Homo sapiens: one gene and its partners. The protein of the gene in region 1 purifies or fractionates together with the protein of each later gene. This does not show direct contact. Each region holds a gene or a part of one and is shown in the gene's direction. Other genes may lie near its edges. The genes, in order: SLC6A17, CLPTM1, CNIH4 and KLHL36.

Region 1 (4,225 bases):
TATGATGGCTGCATGGGAAGCCATGGTAGCAGTTAAATTACTATGTAAGCACTCAGCATTTATGTTGTCTTACCAAGTCCTCACAGTCATCCTCTGAAGTTGATACTCTTGTGATCTGCGTATTGGGGAAACTGAGGCTCAGAGGAGTAGGGAAATTGCCCAAGTTCACACAGCTTCTTACCACTATGGGCTGCTGCCTCTGAACTCTGTTGAGGCTGAGAAAGGGGGTGTGCACATGAATAAAACCATCCCCTCTGTGTCTCTTTTCTTCCTCCTGCCTTGGTCTTCTGCCATAGCTGGACAAGATGCTGGACCCCCAGGTGTGGCGGGAGGCAGCTACCCAGGTCTTCTTTGCCTTGGGCCTGGGCTTTGGTGGTGTCATTGCCTTCTCCAGCTACAATAAGCAGGACAACAACTGCCACTTCGATGCCGCCCTGGTGTCCTTCATCAACTTCTTCACGTCAGTGTTGGCCACCCTCGTGGTGTTTGCTGTGCTGGGCTTCAAGGCCAACATCATGAATGAGAAGTGTGTGGTCGAGTAGGTGGCATCTCTCCTCCTGTCCCTCCTTCTCCCTGTCTACCTTACCTGGGAGTGGGCAGGGGTGGGGGCGCAGGTGTGCATGGGGAGAGAGGTCCCCTCCACTCAGACTGAGGAATGGAGATCAGAGGAGCACTCTCTGTCCCCAGCTCCGGGCCACAGGGACAAGCTCAGAGATGCCTCTGTCAGTGACCCATGAGGTTCCCACCTGGGTGCCTGGGAAGAGCCTCCAGGATCTCACCCATTGCCCACCCCTGCCTTCTTACCTGGTCCTCTCGGTTTTGTGCTGCAGGAATGCTGAGAAAATCCTAGGGTACCTTAACACCAACGTCCTGAGCCGGGACCTCATCCCACCCCACGTCAACTTCTCCCACCTGACCACAAAGGACTACATGGAGATGTACAATGTCATCATGACCGTGAAGGAGGACCAGTTCTCAGCCCTGGGCCTTGACCCCTGCCTTCTGGAGGACGAGCTGGACAAGGTGCGGGGACAGGCTGCCCTTCCCAGGACAGGCAGGAACCCAGAGAGCAGCTGTGGCCGGCGGGAGCTTGGGCTCAGGCCTCAGGATGCTGACAGGTAGTCATTAGTTTACTTGGTAAGCAAGGATCTGCTGTGTGTCCAGAGGGAGTGAAAGGGAAGAAAGGTATTGGCCAAAGTCCCTGCCCAGAGGTAGGCTTGAGCCTAGACAAGAAGTAGGGCAGACACACACCTCTCAGAAGTCACAGTAAGTGTATGGGACGATGTTTCCATTTACTGAGTGGGCTTCTCGTGCATCAGTCACTGCCACAGGTAATATACTCAGAACAGTGCCTTGACATGGTGTGCATCAAAGAAGTGTTGAAGTTAGTGTTTGCCCGTTGCTGTCTATCTCTTTTGACGCTCAAGACAGCTCTATGAGTTGAGTATTCATATTGTTCCCTACCTTACAGATGAGTAGCCTATGAGATGGGGGGCTTGATCAAGGTCTCATAACTAGTAAGTCAGAGAGGCAGTTAGTTGGGTCCAAATCCAGTTAGTTGGGTCCAGAGCCCATGCTCAGGATCACCTCTTGATGCTTCTGCCCCTCCCCAACCTGTCCCCATTCCAATCTCACTGCCATGATGACTCTTAGACTTTAGGGTGGTGCTGGGGGTGCTGACTCCTCCTCAGTGCTCAGGCCCATGTTAGGACACCTTGCTTCTATTTATACTTACATAGCTGGACACTTTCAAAATGACTGTTCTGTTAGAAGGGGTAACAGGAAAGGGACATACCCACAGCATCTTGGGAACCAGGCTGGAGCCAAGGCTCACATGGGGCGGAGCCAGCTCCCATCAGCCTGGGTCAACCCTGTCCTTCATGGGACTGGGGAAGGGGGTGCTTTCCCTGGGCTCTATGTTAAAAGTCAGCTCCATTGGATGGTACCATCCTAATGCTGAGGGAGCTGCATCCTACACCCCAACCCTTTCCCTGCGGATCAAGAGCAAAAGAGCCCAATCTCGGGCCCACTGCCCTGGTTTCTTCCCCAGGTAACTGGCAGCATAAAGGACCTCCCCTTTTCACATTCTCTGAAACCCTGCTCAGTTCTCATGGGCATGGCCTGGTTCTCTGAATTAAACTAGGTTTATAGCAGTGTTTTCATACAATACAACTCCGATAGCATTCAAATGACAAGATTATACACTCACTTAGTGGGGAAGAAATGTTCCCTTACAATCACTGAACATTACAGGGCAACGTGTAAGTGACAGGGGGCAGTGTGTGGTCACCTGACCCACAAGCATGGCCCAAGCATTAAAGCAGTGATTCTCTACCTTGGCTACCCATTAGAGTTCCTGGGGTATTTTTGTTTGTTTTAAAAAAAAACTCTGACACCCAGCTTCACCCCAGACCAATCCAGTCATTGTCCGTGGGGTGAGACCCAGGTGTCGGTGTTTCTAAAGGCTCCGGTGTGCTTCCATTGAGAGCCGAGGCTGAGACCACTGCATGAAGATCTGCAGTTCAGAAGTTCTGAGCTGGGAGCGGCCACAGTGTGGCTGGAGCAATCAGGAAAGACATCTTAGAGGAGCAGGGTCCTGAGCTGGGTGTATTTCTAAACATGAGCATCTTCACTTGAATCACCTAAGCTCCTGGTACAACCCGTAGATTCCAGGTCCCACAGGTGAACTCCCAAGTTGGTGTTTTTGAGCTACGTCTAGGGGATTCCAATGCCTGCTAAAGTTCGAGACCCACTGGCCAAAATCAACAGGATTTAGGTGGAGGTGGGAACCCCTGTGAAAGAGGGAATAGTTATTCCAAAAGTTTGAAGGGCAGAGGGAAGGAAGCAGTGGGCTCCCCAGGGAGGGGTGACCTCACAGGCCCTGCTTTCCACCCCACCTTCAGTCCGTGCAGGGCACAGGCCTGGCCTTCATCGCCTTCACTGAGGCCATGACGCACTTCCCCGCCTCCCCGTTCTGGTCCGTCATGTTCTTCTTGATGCTTATCAACCTGGGCCTGGGCAGCATGATCGGGACCATGGCAGGCATCACCACGCCCATCATCGACACCTTCAAGGTGCCCAAGGAGATGTTCACAGGTAACTCCTCCCTGCCCCCATGCCCAGGCTCTGCAGGCTGCCCTTGTGGACAACAATTCCGTTCTGGCTTCTGACTGGGTCCTTCATGACCCCACACCCAGAAGGCTCCACCCCACACTGGGACACAGCTGGAGCCTGGCTGTGCCACTCAGTGATTAGCACTCACAAGCCAGGAAGAGAAAGCTACTTGGAAATCTGGAGCAAACATGAGCCGGGAGGCCTGCATCTAGGCCCCTTTGTTAGTTCACTTGCCCCTCTCCCCAAGGGCCTGCTGAGTCGTCTTGGGAAGTGGGTGCTGAGTCGTCTTGGGCAGGGGCACTCACTGGCCTTGCGCCCTGTTCCATCTTTGTCACTCCAGTCCCGGGCTGTGTCCACAGTTCCCTTCGGGGTTTGCTGCGTTGATCTAGGGCCCATAGAGGGATACCTCTCATCTGCATCCCTAAAGCGGGGTATCTTTCTGTTCTCAAGTGGGGAAACTGAGGTGGAGAAAAAGACTGGTAACAATCAGATGAATCATTTAAGTTAAATACAGCAATTAAGTAGCGCACCTGCCACGGGCCAGGCCCTGTGCTGGGGCAGAGGCATGGGATGAAAGTTAGACACAACGCCTTCCTCAGGTGCTCCCCGACTAGTAGAGCGGGGCTCAGAACCTGAGCATCTGGATCCCTCGTGCAGGACTGAGCCTGCTGGCAGGAGGGCTGCAGGCATGCTTTGGGGAGGGATGTGATGGGAGGGGCCTGGGTGCCCCCGAGACCCCCAGGGCCCTGCCCACCCTGCACCTTTGCCCCCAAACCGGCCTCCCGGCTCTCTGTAGTGGGCTGCTGTGTCTTTGCATTCCTCGTGGGGCTGTTGTTCGTCCAGCGCTCCGGAAACTACTTTGTCACCATGTTCGATGACTACTCGGCCACCCTGCCACTCACTCTCATCGTCATCCTTGAGAACATCGCTGTGGCCTGGATTTATGGAACCAAGAAGTAAGAGGAACATGGGGGAAAGGTGGGATGGGAGGAGGGGTCTGTCCTATCATGACTCCCTGGAGAGGCAGATCATAGAGTCACAATGGCAGAGCTGAAAGTGCCCTTACGGATCATTTAGGGAAACTGAGGTGTAGTGCAAGGACATGGCTGCC
Region 2 (4,225 bases), on another chromosome or scaffold:
GTGCAGAATCAGCAAGTATTGAACAAGTAAAAGGGACATCTCTCTTTGGGGCCTTCTTCGGCTGAGTCCAAGACAGCTGCCCTCATTCCTTTCTCCCCAGCAGGCCTTCTCAGCTTTGGGGTGGAGGGCACATTTCTGTTCTATTTCTGTCTGGGTAGCTAGAAGCAGAATGTGGACACAGTCATTCTGGTTTTTTTTTTTGTTTTTTGTTTTTTTTTGAGACAGCGTCTCGCTCTGTCACCCAGTCTGGAGGGCAGTGGCGCAACCTTGGCTCACTGCAACTTCACCTCCCAGGTTCAAGCGATTCTCATGTGCCAGCCTCCTGAGTAGCTGGGACTAAGGCACACATGATCACACCCAGCTAATTTTTTTATTTTTTAGTAGAGACAAGGTTTCACTATGTTGGCCAGGTTGGCCTTGAACTCCTGACCTCAAGTGATCCACCTACCTTGGTCTCCCAAAGTGCTGGGATTACAGGCGTGAGACACCGCGTCCAGCCATCATTCTTTTCTTTTTGAGATGGGGTCTTGCTCTGTTGCCTAGGCTGAAGTGCAGTGGTGCAATTACAGCTCACTGCAGCCTCAACCTCCTGGGCTCAAGCAATCTTTTCACCTCAGCCTCCCAAGTAGCTGGGACAACAGGCATGCACCACCATGCCCAGCTAATTTTTTGTAGAGATGGGGTCTCAACATGTTTCCCAGGCTGGTCTCAAACTCCTCTGCTCAAGCGATCCTCTCACCTCAGCCTCTCAAAGTGCTGGAATTACAGGCATGAACCACCCCACCTGGCTGGACTTTCTGACCTGCACTGAGAGGTGACTCCCACAGAGACCTCAAGCCCAGCCCCCAGGCCTTGCCACGAGATCCAAGGAAGGACCAGGGCCTGGCAGGCCCAGCAGGGGGATCTGCTTCCAAGGGCTTGGATCTAAGTCGAAGCTTCAGGGTGGGGTCCAAGTGGACTTAAAAGGCAGGAGAGCTGGGCACAGTGGCATGTGCCTGTAGGCACAGCTACTCAGGAGGCTGAGGTGGGAGAATGGCCAGAGCCCAGGAGTTTAAGACTGTAGTGTGCCATGATCGCAACTGCAAATAGCCAGTGCACTCCAGCCTGGGCAACACAGGAAGACCCCATCTCTAAAAAAGATAGGGAGAGTGAGGAGAACACAATGTGGCCAACTGAATTCGAGCTCTGCACAAGGATCAGAGAGGTTCAGTGCTCGCCTTTGTCTCCACCCAGTGCCCCTGGACAACTTGCCTCCCTTCTTGAAGCCTCAGTTTCCTCATCTGGATCAAGTGAGAATAGTCCCCCTTCCCTGGGAGGCAAGGAGACTTGATGAGATAATGAGGAAGACTTGGGCAGAGAGGGGCCAGCTGGAGGTAGCAGGGAGTAGCACCCAGGAGCCCACAGACTGGGTTTCCATCTGCGTACTTGCCACACACTATGTGACCCCTTGGCATGAGCCCCGTTTGCCTCATCTGCAAAATGGGGTGGTAACATGACCCATTGCATAAGGTTGACATGTTATATGTGTGTTAACTCGTTAGATTAGGAAGCTGTTGTCTGAAGTGCCCAGGGCAGGGTCTGGCCCATAGTAGGAGCTCCATGTCGGTCAGCTGCTTCTTCCTGTTGAGTGAGCTTAACGAGAGCTCGTTGACTGAGCTGTGTGCCAGTGCTCCAGGTAGTCCCTGCAGTGGTGCCCTCGGGTCAGTGCTGTGGGAACTTCGCATCCTCTAGGTGGGGCCCTGAGGCTCAGAGAGAAGCTGAGCTCACACGGCCATGGCAGGTAGAGCGGGCGTCTGAGTCTGTCTGACTCCAGCATTTACCTCTCTGCCACCCAGCTACATGCCCCACCCTGAGTACTCAGTAAATGGCCAGAGAGTTGAGGGGGAGGAAACTGCTGCAGATGGGTGCCAGGCAGGGCTTTAACGTTTCCCTCACCCCAGTTGCCCAGCCTGCCCACCTGACCTTCCGTCTTTTGCAGAGCGTCCAGCAGAACGGCTCCATCTACATCCACGTTTACTTCACCAAGAGTGGCTTCCACCCAGACCCCCGGCAGAAGGCCCTGTACCGCCGGCTTGCCACAGTCCACATGTCCCGGAGTAAGTCGCTCCCCTGCAGCCAGGACCCACTGTCCAGGAGGCCAGCATCCTGGGAGCCCCCAGGCTAATGTGGCGGACAAATCCCAAGTCCAGGAGGGCAGGCAGGAAGCCTGTGCTCAAAGAGGGTGGGATTGGCAGGGCAGGCTCAAGCCCCACCCAGCCTGAAAGAGCCCTGTGGACACTAAGCAGGGATACCCACGGAGGAAGGGAGACCCACGGAGGCTCAGGGACCAGAGAGAAATTGGCCAGAAAAAGCAGCTGGAGACAGGGACTCTTGGAGAGGAGGAGACGTCCTTCACCAAGGGGGAAGGGCCAGGGTTGACTTTTGCACAGTAGGGGCCTGATAGAAGTAGACACTCAAAAATAATTTGTGGGCTGGGTGCAGTGGTTCATGCCTGTAATCCTAGCACTTTGGGAGACAAGGTGGGCAGATTGCTTGAGCCCAGGAGTTTGAGACCAGCCTGGGAAACATGACAAAACCCTGTCTCTACCAAAAAAGACACAAAAACTAGCTGGGCGTGTGCCTGTAGTCCCAGCTGCTCAGGAGGCTGAGGTGGGAGGATCGCTTGAGCCCAGGAGGTGGAGGTTGCAGTGAGCCAGAATCACACCACTGCACTCCAGCCTGGGTGACAGACCGAGAACCTGTCTCAAAAAGATAGATAGAGGCCGGGCACAGTGGCTCACGCCTGTAATCCCAGGACTTTGGGAGGCCGAGGCGGGTGAATCACAAGGTCAAGAGATAGAGACCATCCTGGCCAACACGGTGAAACCCCGTCTCTACTAAAAATACAAAAATTAGCTGGGTGTAGTAGCATGCTCCTGTAGTCCCAGCTACTTGGGAGGCTGAGGCAGGAGAATCGCTTGAATCCAGGAGGCGGAGGTTGCATTGAGCTGAGATCACGCCATTGCACTCCAGCCTGGTGACACAGCAAGACTCCGTCTCCGTCTCAAAAAAAAAAAAAATAGATAAAATTCAAAGAACAGTGTGGGCAACATAATGAGACTTCGTTGCTACAAAAATTAATAGCCAGGTATGGTGGTGAGCACCTGTGGTTCCAGCTACATGGGAGGCTGAGGTGGGAGGATCGCTTGAACCTGGGAGGTCAAGGATGCAGTGAGCTGTGATTGCACTACAGCTTTCCAGCCTGGGCGACAGAGCAAGTCCACGTCTCTGAAAAAACAATAGTAATAAAAAATAAGACTACCACTTCTACTCCCATGATAACTCATTAATCCATTAAACCACTAATCCATGAATGGGTTAATCAGTTCCTGAGGGGAGGGTCCTCATGACCCAGTCACCTCTTAAAAGCCTCATCTCTCAGTACTGGCACATTGGGGATTAAGTTTCACTGGGAGTGGGGAGTACTAGAGTACATCAGTAGTCCCAGCTACTTGGGAGGCTGAGGTGGGAGAATCAGCATGAGTTTTGGCCAGGACAAACATTCAAACCATAGCATTGTCCGTCCTCTTGTTTTCGAGAAGTTAATAATTGTTGTCATCTTTCTGCTTGCCTGGCTCTTTTTTTTTTTTTTTTTGAGACAGGGTCTCACTATGTCGCCCAGGCTGGAGTGCAGTGGACTATCTCAGCTCACCACAATTTCCACCTCCCAAGTTCAAGCGATTCTCCCACCTTAGCCTCCAAAATAGCTGGGACTACAGGCACACGCCACTACGCCCGGCTAGTTTTTGTATTTTTAGTAGAGACGGGGTTTCGCCATGTTGGCCAGGCTGGTCTCAAACTCCTGACCTCAAGTGATCGTCTGCCTCGGCCTCCCAAAGTGCTGGGATTACAGGTGTGAGCTGCCACACCCAGCCTTGCTTGGTTCTCTGTGAGCTTTTTCCCTGAGTCCTCTGTCTCCTGATGGGCAGCCGTAGAAATCTCTTGCTGTACCTGTTTGAGCGGAGCTGGAGAATGGCTTCCTCAGAAAGCCCCCCATTCTTCTAACGGGAGTTCTGTGTACTCCACCTAGCTTTCACTTTATTGAGGACTATTCCAGACATTCCCTGTGGATTTGGTTAAGATCCATCTGGCTGGTTTTGGGTGGCGCAGCAACAGACAGAATTCTATTTGTATGAGTTAGGTCTTACCTACTTCTTTTAGTACAAAAATATCCTAAAGGATGGTA
Region 3 (4,225 bases), about 110 Mb from region 1:
GTATTTAGAAGAAATGATTGCCAGGACCTACAAATGAGTGATTATGATATATGAAACAGAAGGCAGAGATAGCTTTCCATATTTTGATCCTGGGCAAGTGATACTTGTGTCAGTAACAGAAATAAAACAAATTGGAGGAAGATCAATCTGTGGAGAAAGTGATGAGTTTGACTTTATTTTATTTTCATGTTTATTTTTGAGACAGAGTCTCACTGTCACCCAGGCTGGAGTGCAGTGGCGCAATCTTGGCTTACTGCTGCCTCCATCTCCTGGGTTCAAGCGATTCTCCTGCCTCAGCCTCTCAAGTAACTGAGACTACAAGTGCCTACCAAATCTGCTGCTCAGACTGGAGCGCACTGGTGTGATTATAGCTCAGTGTAACGTGAATCCTGGGCTCTAGGCATTTTGCTGCCTCACCTTAGCAGTACTGCTACTAATAGCTAGCATTACAGGTGCTCATGCCCGGCTAATGAAAAAAAAAGAAAAAATTTGTAGAGATGGGGGTGAGGTGAGTGAATCACTTGAAGCCAGGAGTTCGAGACCAGCCTGGCTAACATAGTGAAACCCCGTCTCTACTAAAAATACAAAAAATTAGCTGGGTGTGGTGGTGGCGCGCACCTATAGTTCCAGCTACTTGGAAGGCTGAGGCACAAGAATTGCTTGAACCCAGGAGGCAGGGGTAGCAGTGCGTTGGAATTGCGCCACTGCACTACAGCCTGGGTGAAAGAGATGGAGGCTTGCTATGTTGCCTATGCTGATCTTGAACTCCTGCTTCAGGCGATCCTCCTGCCTCAGCTTCCCAAAGTGCTGGGATATTTCCCATTTTTTTTTTTTTAATAGCCATTGTTTTACATTTGAAGAACTCAAACTAAATGTTCTGGTTGGGTCAGATTAGATTTGAGCAAAATAGGATTATTTTGTAAAATAATTTGTTGAAGGAACATGAATGGGAAAATTGAGTTGTCTAATGAGCAAACTTTAGGAAACAACTCATTTTTTTCAAGTCAAATCTAATTCTGCCTTGTAACTGGGATTGCTTTCTGAAACTTAAATACTTAGTTATTATAAAAGAAATATAATAATTCCTTATCTTGATCATCAGATAATTACATTGTCTGATTTAGAATGTGATTACATTAATGCTAGATCATGTTGCTCAAAATTAAACAAGGTAAGACATTTCTTTGCTCATTCTCTGGCATTGAAGCCAGGTCATTTTCCATACTTAAGATTATTATAGATAACAGATGTATTTTTGATTTTAGAGTACATGTTGTCTCTTATTCATTGGAAATTTGATGGAACTGCTGTGTTTTACAATATTTTAGATCATGAAATTATGCTAGAAGATCTGACTTGAAATTTTGTTTCTTTATATGTTGCTTGTCTCTTGTTTACAGCGGATAGCATCTTTACTCAGAGTAGGGAAATGTTCATCATGAGGGTAATTGTTTTTGTCTTCTGCGTTGGAACTCCCTCCTCCCACTCACGGAAAAAAGCTCAAGTCTGTCTTTGGTTGAATGAAAGAAGACCTTTCTTGTGTAGTTTACCGAGAAAATAATTTTTTTTTAATGTATGACTCTTTATTTATTTATTTATTTATTGAGAGAGAAGGTTTCTTGCAGTGGTGATCAGGCTATTCTTGAATTCCTAGGCTCAAGTGATCTGCCTCGGCCTTCTGAGTAGCTGGGACTACAGGCGCATGCCACCATGCCTGGCTAATTTTTTTTTTTTTTTTTTTGAGATGGAGTCTCACTCTGTCACCCAGGCCGGAGTGCAGTGGTGTGATCTGGACTCACTGCAGCCTCTGCCTCCCAGGTTCAAGCGTTTCTCCTGCCTCAGCCTCCCAAGTAGCTGGGATTACAGGCACTGCCACCACACCTGGCTAATTTTTTTTGTATTTTTCATAGAGATGGGGTTTCACCATGTTGGCCAGGCTGGTTTCAAACTCCTGACCTCAAGTGATTCGCCTGCCTCAGCCTCCCAAAGTGTTAGGATTATAGGTGTGAGCCACCGTGCCCAGCCACCTGGCTAATTTTTAAATTTTTTTGTAGACTGGGTCTTGCTATGTGATCTAGACTGGCTTTGAACTCCTGGCCTTAAGCAATCCTGCTGTCTTGGCAAAGTGCTGGGATTACAGGTGTCAGCCACCATGCCTGGCCTAAGCTCCATATTTTAAAAATTTTCATAAATTTTGTTTGATTGTTTGAGGCAGAGTCTCACTCTGTTGCCCAGGCTGGAGTGCAGTGATGCGATCATGGCTCACTGCAGCCTTGACCTCCTAGGCTCAAGCGATCCTTCCACCTCAGCCTCCCATGTAGGTGGGACTACAGGTGTGTGCCACCATACCTGGCTGATTTTTAAAATTTTTTTGTAGAGACAGGGTTTCACTATGTTGCCCAGGCTGGTCTGAAATTCCTAGGCTCAAGTGATCTGCCCTCTTTGGCCTCCCAAAGTGTTAGGATTACAGTTGTGAGCCACTGCGCCCAGCCTCATGTAGCTTCTTGAGATAAGGTAACTGCCAATTAAATTTTGAGGCCTTCCATGTTTGAAAATGTCTTATCTTTACACTTGATTCATAGTTGTCAGAGTACAGGGTTCTAGGCTGGAAAAGATTTTTCTTTCAGAATTTTAAAGACACCCCTTGGTGGTCTTCTGACTTCCAGTGGTTCAAGTTGGGAAGTACCATGCCATTTTTTTTTTTTTGAGACGGAGTCTCACTCTGTTGCCTAAGCTGGAGTGCAGTGGTGCGATCTTGGCTCACTGCAAGCTCTGCCTCCCGGGTTCATGCTATTCTCCTGCCTCAGCCTCCCAAGTAACTGGGACTACAGGCGCCCACCACCACGCCCGGCTAATTTTTTTGTATTTTTTAGTGGAGACGGGGTTTCACCGTGTTAGCCAGGATGGTCTCAATCTCCTGACCTCATGATCTGCCCGCCTCAGCCTCCCAAAGAATTTCTCATCTATTCTATATGATTCTCATTCTCATTCTCTCTCTCTCTCTCTCTTTCTCTCTTTTCCTGTCCTCTATGGGAAAGTTTTAGAATCTTTATCCTTGGTGTTTTGAAATTTTACAGTGCTGTATCGCTGTGTACTTTTTTTTTTTTTTTTTTTTGAGACGGAGTCTTGCTCTGTGGCCCAGACTAGATTGCAGTGGCGTGATCTCAGCTCACTGCAAGCTCTACCTCCCCGGTTCACGCCATTCTCCCGCTTCAGCCTCCCGAGTAGCTGGGACTACAGGCGCCTGCCACCATGCCTGGCTAATTTTGTTTTTGTATTTTTAATAGAGACAGGGTTTCACCATGTTAGCCAGGATGGTCTTGATCTCCTGACCTCGTAATCTGCCCAAAGTGCTGGGATTACAGGCATGAGCCACTGTGCCTGGCCCTCTGTGTACTTTTTAAAAGGCCTTTCTTGTTTGTTTTGGACATCTGATAGGCTCTTTCAATATGGGAAATTTTCTTGTATTCTTTCTTTGATGTTTCTTCCCCATCTTTTTTCCCTCCTTCTCTTCCTACAACATCCACTAACTAGACAATTGATCTGCTGGATTGATCTGCCAATTTTTCCTTTTTCTTAGTTTTATCTCTTTGATTTTTTTTCTGCTGTTTTTATTATTTCCCTTGCTTTTTCTTCTGAATTTTCTTTTTTTCTTTTTTCTTTCTTTTTGAGATGGAGTTTTGCACTTGTTGTCTAGGCTGGAGTGCAGTGGTGCTATCTTGGCTCACTGACACCTCCAACTCCTGGGTTTAAACAATTCTTGTGCCTCAGCCTCCTGAGTAGCTGGGATTACAGGGGTGTGCCACCATGCTGGCTAATTTTTGTATTTTTAATAGAGATGAAGTCTCGCCACGTTGGCCAGGCTGGTCTCCGACTCCTGACATCAGGTGATCTGCTCTCCTCGGCCTCCCAAAGTGCTGGGATTACAGGCATGAGCCACTGCACCCAGCCTTCTTTTGAATTTTCTAACAAATGTAGCATTTATGCTAAAATGATGATTTTTAAGAGGTTTTTATTCTCTTGGTTCATGTTTGACTCCTAGTTCTCTGCGAATACTGATTATAGTATTTTTCTATTTTTTATTAAAGATAGGGTCTTTTTCTCTCATCCAGGCTGAAGTACAGTGGCACAATCATATTTCATTGCAGCCTTGAATTTCTAGGCTCAAGCAATCCTCCCGCCTTAGTGTCCCAAGTAGCTGGGACTGCAGATGTGCACCACCATG
Region 4 (4,056 bases), on another chromosome or scaffold:
TATGCAAATTGCCTAAGAAGTGTGATCCTTTTTCTGATTCACTCATTTCTAATCACAGACTGATTTTTTTGTCATTGGTGTTGTCAGTCTCCTTAATGACAAGTAAAGGTGGAAACGGGCAAGGAGCAGAAATTGTCATAAAATCAGACAGTGGGAAGTATGAGGGATGGTAGAGACGCTATGGCCAGATGTCTTCATTTTTCCATGTGACATTCCGGAGCTTTCTTTTTGTGACAACTTGACTCATTCGTTAACCCAAGGAGGTGGATGGGACAGGAAGAAAACTGGGATTCCCATGCCTGCTTGGGGGCTCAAAAACTCCAAGGACAGGTCCATTGAGAACCCAGCCTTCTACCTTAGGGTGAGGGCAACACACCGTGTACCCGGACCCCAAGGGCCTGGAGTCGTCTTCCCTGGTCATGATTCCCTGCGACCTAAGAGCAAGTGAGGGCAAGTTCCCCAGAGCCAGGCTACTGGGGGAGTTCTAATTAGAAATATGTAGCCTGTTCCCACCAGCCACATTAAAATCCAAGAGCCAGACCCGGCTGCTATACTTTCCACAAACTCCTGTCCCCACAGCTGCTGTTGGTAAAGAGTGGGGGAGCCATTGGTATGAGGTTCCTGGTAACCTGTTTCCCCGTTATAAATATTCGTAATGCCCTCTGTTCTTTAGAGGTATCCCTTTTGGAGATTAAATCTTATGGTTACCTCAGATCATGGATTCTCAATGAGTATGATATTGCCCTGAAGTGGGAGAAAATTGGTTCTCGGGAGGGTGGAAGGAATTTTACTCCTTTTATGCATAAGACACAATTATACATACAGTACATGAGCAGACATACAGTGCATCTGTGATGTTAAGATTTTGCTGGGGAGGCTATTAGGGAAAAAAATCTTAAAAGCCTTCTTGTGGGGCAATAATGAAAAAAGATACAGAAACACTTCTTTAGATGAAGGGAGCTGGCAGCAGCCTATAGAGTTGAGAAAAAGGGGGAAAGAGATTCTACAGATTCTAAAAGAAAAACTGGCTGTCATTTTCAAGAGAGGTTGGCTCTCTTGAGATATGACCTCCTGTTCTCACGTGAGTTCCCCAAGAAGGTTCCTGCCAAGCCCAGCTTTATCGATTGTGAAAACCCAGAGAGGTCTCGCCGCTCGCTCACAAGGGCTTTGTTTGGGAGCTTAGCTTGGGAGACACTGCTGCTTTCTAAGTTTGACAGCACTGGAAGTCTTTGTCCATTAATGCCAGGACCCTGAGTTTGTTTCTGTCTGAACTGAATCTCTTAGGACTAGGCTTCTGTATCACTGGATGATGTTTCTAACTTTTTTTTTTTTTCGAGACAGGGTCTTGCTCTGTCACTTAGGTTGGAGTACAGTGGTGCGATCATAGCTCACTGCAGCCTCTACCTCCTGGGCTCAAGTGAGCCTCCCACCTCAGCCTCCTGAGGAGCTGGGAATACAGGTGCATGCCACCATGCCCAGCTAATTTTTGTATTTTTAGTAGAGACGGGGTTTCACCATGTTGGCCAGGATGGTCTTGATCTCTTGACCTCGTGACCCGCCAGCCTTGGCCTCCCAAAGTGCTGGGATTACAGGCGCGAGCCACCATGACTGGCCTGTTTCTAACTTTTTATTTTTAAAAAGTGTACCCATTAATTTCTAGACATTAAACACACCTATGTTGCCAGCACCCAGATGGGTAAAAAACAGAATACTACCAAACCCTCCCAGTTGTTACACTCAAGATAGTCGCTGTCCCAACCCCACCGCTGTGGTTTGATCTGCTTTTGAACTTTGTCTAAACGGGATCCGAGGTCGGGTACTCTTGTGTGTGGTTTCTTTTGTGCAACATTGTGCCTCTGAGCCTCACCCGTGTTGCTGCATGTAGTTGGTAGTGGTAGGTTTTGCTTTCTCAGCATGTTGGTGTCTTCCCACTGTGTGGCCACAGTGTCTGTTCACCTGTCTGCCCTAAGATGTGTTGCTCAGCCAGGCACAGTGGCTCACGCCTGTAATCCCAGCACCCTGGGAGGCCGAGGCGGGAGGATCTCGTAAGCTCGGAGTTTGAGACCAGCTTGGACAACACGGCTAAACCTCATCTCTACAAAAGATACAAAAATTAGCCGAGCCTGGTGGCATACACCTGTAGTCCCAGCTCCTCAGGAGGCCGAGGTGGGAGGCTCACTTGAGCCCAGGAGGTAGAGGTTGCAGTGAGCTATGATCGCACCACTGTACTCCAACCTAAGTGACAGAGCGAGACCCTGTCTCAAAAAAAAAAAGTGTTGTTCCTTTTTGATGCTAAATTCTTTTTCCACGTCTAATACCTGGTACCTGCCGCCTCCTCCCAGGTGTAAGCCCCCGACAACCTGAGTTTCTCCCTCTACTTGGCCTTGCATCTGATTAAGGCACTGAAATAGGAAATAAAGAAATGAACAAGACTCATATCATCAGAGAATGCTGTGGATTGGAGCTTCTAAGTTACCTGAAATGCGGAAACTCTGTTACCAATGTCCCTTTATAATTGGGAAATAGGCCAGGCGCAGTGGCTCACGCCTGGAATCCTAGAACTTTGGGAGGCTGAGGTGGATGGATCACTTGAAGTCAGGAGTTCGAGGCCAACATGGTGAAACCCCGTCTCTACTGATATATGTATATATGCCGGGAGTGGTGGCACCTGAGGTCAGGAGTTTAAGACCAGCCTGGCCAAAATGGCAAAACCCTGTCTCTACTAAAAAGACAAAATTAGCTGGGCATGGTGGTACATGCCGGTAGTCCCAGCTACTCAGGAGGCTGAGGCAGGAGAATCGCCTGAACCTGGGAGGCGGAGGTTGCAGTGAGCCGAGATCGAGCCACTGCACTCCAGCCTGGGCAACAGAGGGAGGCTCTGTATCCAAAAAAAAAAAAAAAAAAAGGGAACTCGTGTGCCTGTGTTTTTGGAAAGTTGTCTATGCAGCTGTGCTAAAACACCAGAAGCAGATTGCAGCTGATTGTACCCGGGTACAGCATCACTCCAGCCCACTTAGAGCAGAAACCCAGTTTTGGAAACAACACTGCTCTTGCCCCCTGCCCCAGCTCACTGGAGCTGGTGTCTCCCCTCGGCAGCCGTTCACTGGGGCTTTCCCCAGTCCTGCCCCCTGGGCTCTTTCCCTTTTGACACTGCAGTCTGGGGTTGTGTGTATCTCCGTCTAAGCATGGTAGGGCCAGCACCCTCACCAGCGTGGAGACAGCCAGGGTCCCCGGGTGGCAGATAGCCGCCTCATGCCCTCATATGCGTCTCTCAGGCCGCTAAGCCTGTACTATGACTTGATCACCGCCACTGTAGTACTTTTTAATTTCCTTCCTTCAGCTCACACCCAAGAGGGGCCTCCAGTCAATGTCTGTAGAAGCACTGACCATTCCTGCATAATTAGAAGCTGAGGCCTAGCACGGTGGCTTATACCTGTAATCCCAGCACATTGGGAGGCTGAGGCAGGAGGATCGTTTGAACTCAGGAGCTGAAGACCAGCCTGGGCAATGTAGTGAGACCCCATTTCTACAAAAAATAAAAGTAAAAAATAGCTGGATATGGTGGCACACACCTGTAGTCCCAGCTGCCAAGGAAGCTGAAGTGGAGGGATTGCTTGAGACTAGTTTTGTTTTGTTTTGTTTTGTTTTGTTTTGTTTTGTTTTGTTTTGTTTTGTTTTGTTTTTGAGATGGCGTTTTGTTCGTGTTGCCCAGGCTGGAGTGCAGTGGCTCACTGCAACCTCCGCCTCCGGAGTGCAAGTGATTCTCCTGCGTCAGCCTCCTGAGTAGCTAGGATGACAGGCGCCCGCCACCACAACCAGCTAATTTTGTATTTTTACTAGAGACGGGGTTTCACCATGTTGGTCAGGCTGGTCTCGAACTCCTGACCTCAGGTGACCTGCCCACCTCGGCCTCCCAAAGTACTGGGATTCCAGGCATGAGCCACCACGCCCGGCTGAGCCTAGGAGTTTCAGGCCGCAGTGATCTCTGATCTACTGTTGCATGCCAGCCTGGGAAACAGAGCAAGACCCTGTTTCTAAAAATGAGAAAAAATTTAA

Evidence for each region.
Region 2: the proteins of SLC6A17 (region 1) and CLPTM1 purify together in Homo sapiens (affinity purification with mass spectrometry; one large-scale study listed by BioGRID and IntAct). This does not show direct contact.
Region 3: the proteins of SLC6A17 (region 1) and CNIH4 purify together in Homo sapiens (affinity purification with mass spectrometry; one large-scale study listed by BioGRID and IntAct). This does not show direct contact.
Region 4: the proteins of SLC6A17 (region 1) and KLHL36 purify together in Homo sapiens (affinity purification with mass spectrometry; one large-scale study listed by BioGRID and IntAct). This does not show direct contact.

What each region holds. Positions count from the first base shown.
Region 1 is NC_000001.11:110,191,676-110,195,900, forward strand, and holds part of SLC6A17 (sodium-dependent neutral amino acid transporter SLC6A17), read left to right. Parts: intron 1-296; coding exon 297-538; intron 539-830; coding exon 831-1,023; intron 1,024-2,903; coding exon 2,904-3,096; intron 3,097-3,910; coding exon 3,911-4,070; intron 4,071-4,225. UniProt on the Homo sapiens protein: Synaptic vesicle transporter with apparent selectivity for neutral amino acids.
Region 2 is NC_000019.10:44,975,365-44,979,589, forward strand, and holds part of CLPTM1 (putative lipid scramblase CLPTM1), read left to right. Parts: intron 1-1,978; coding exon 1,979-2,096; intron 2,097-4,225. UniProt on the Homo sapiens protein: Involved in GABAergic but not glutamatergic transmission. Binds and traps GABAA receptors in the endoplasmic reticulum (ER).
Region 3 is NC_000001.11:224,359,393-224,363,617, forward strand, and holds part of CNIH4 (protein cornichon homolog 4), read left to right. Parts: intron 1-1,102; coding exon 1,103-1,171; intron 1,172-4,225. UniProt on the Homo sapiens protein: Involved in G protein-coupled receptors (GPCRs) trafficking from the endoplasmic reticulum to the cell surface; it promotes the exit of GPCRs from the early secretory pathway, likely through interaction with the COPII machinery.
Region 4 is NC_000016.10:84,650,955-84,655,010, forward strand, and holds part of KLHL36 (kelch-like protein 36), read left to right. Parts: intron 1-4,056.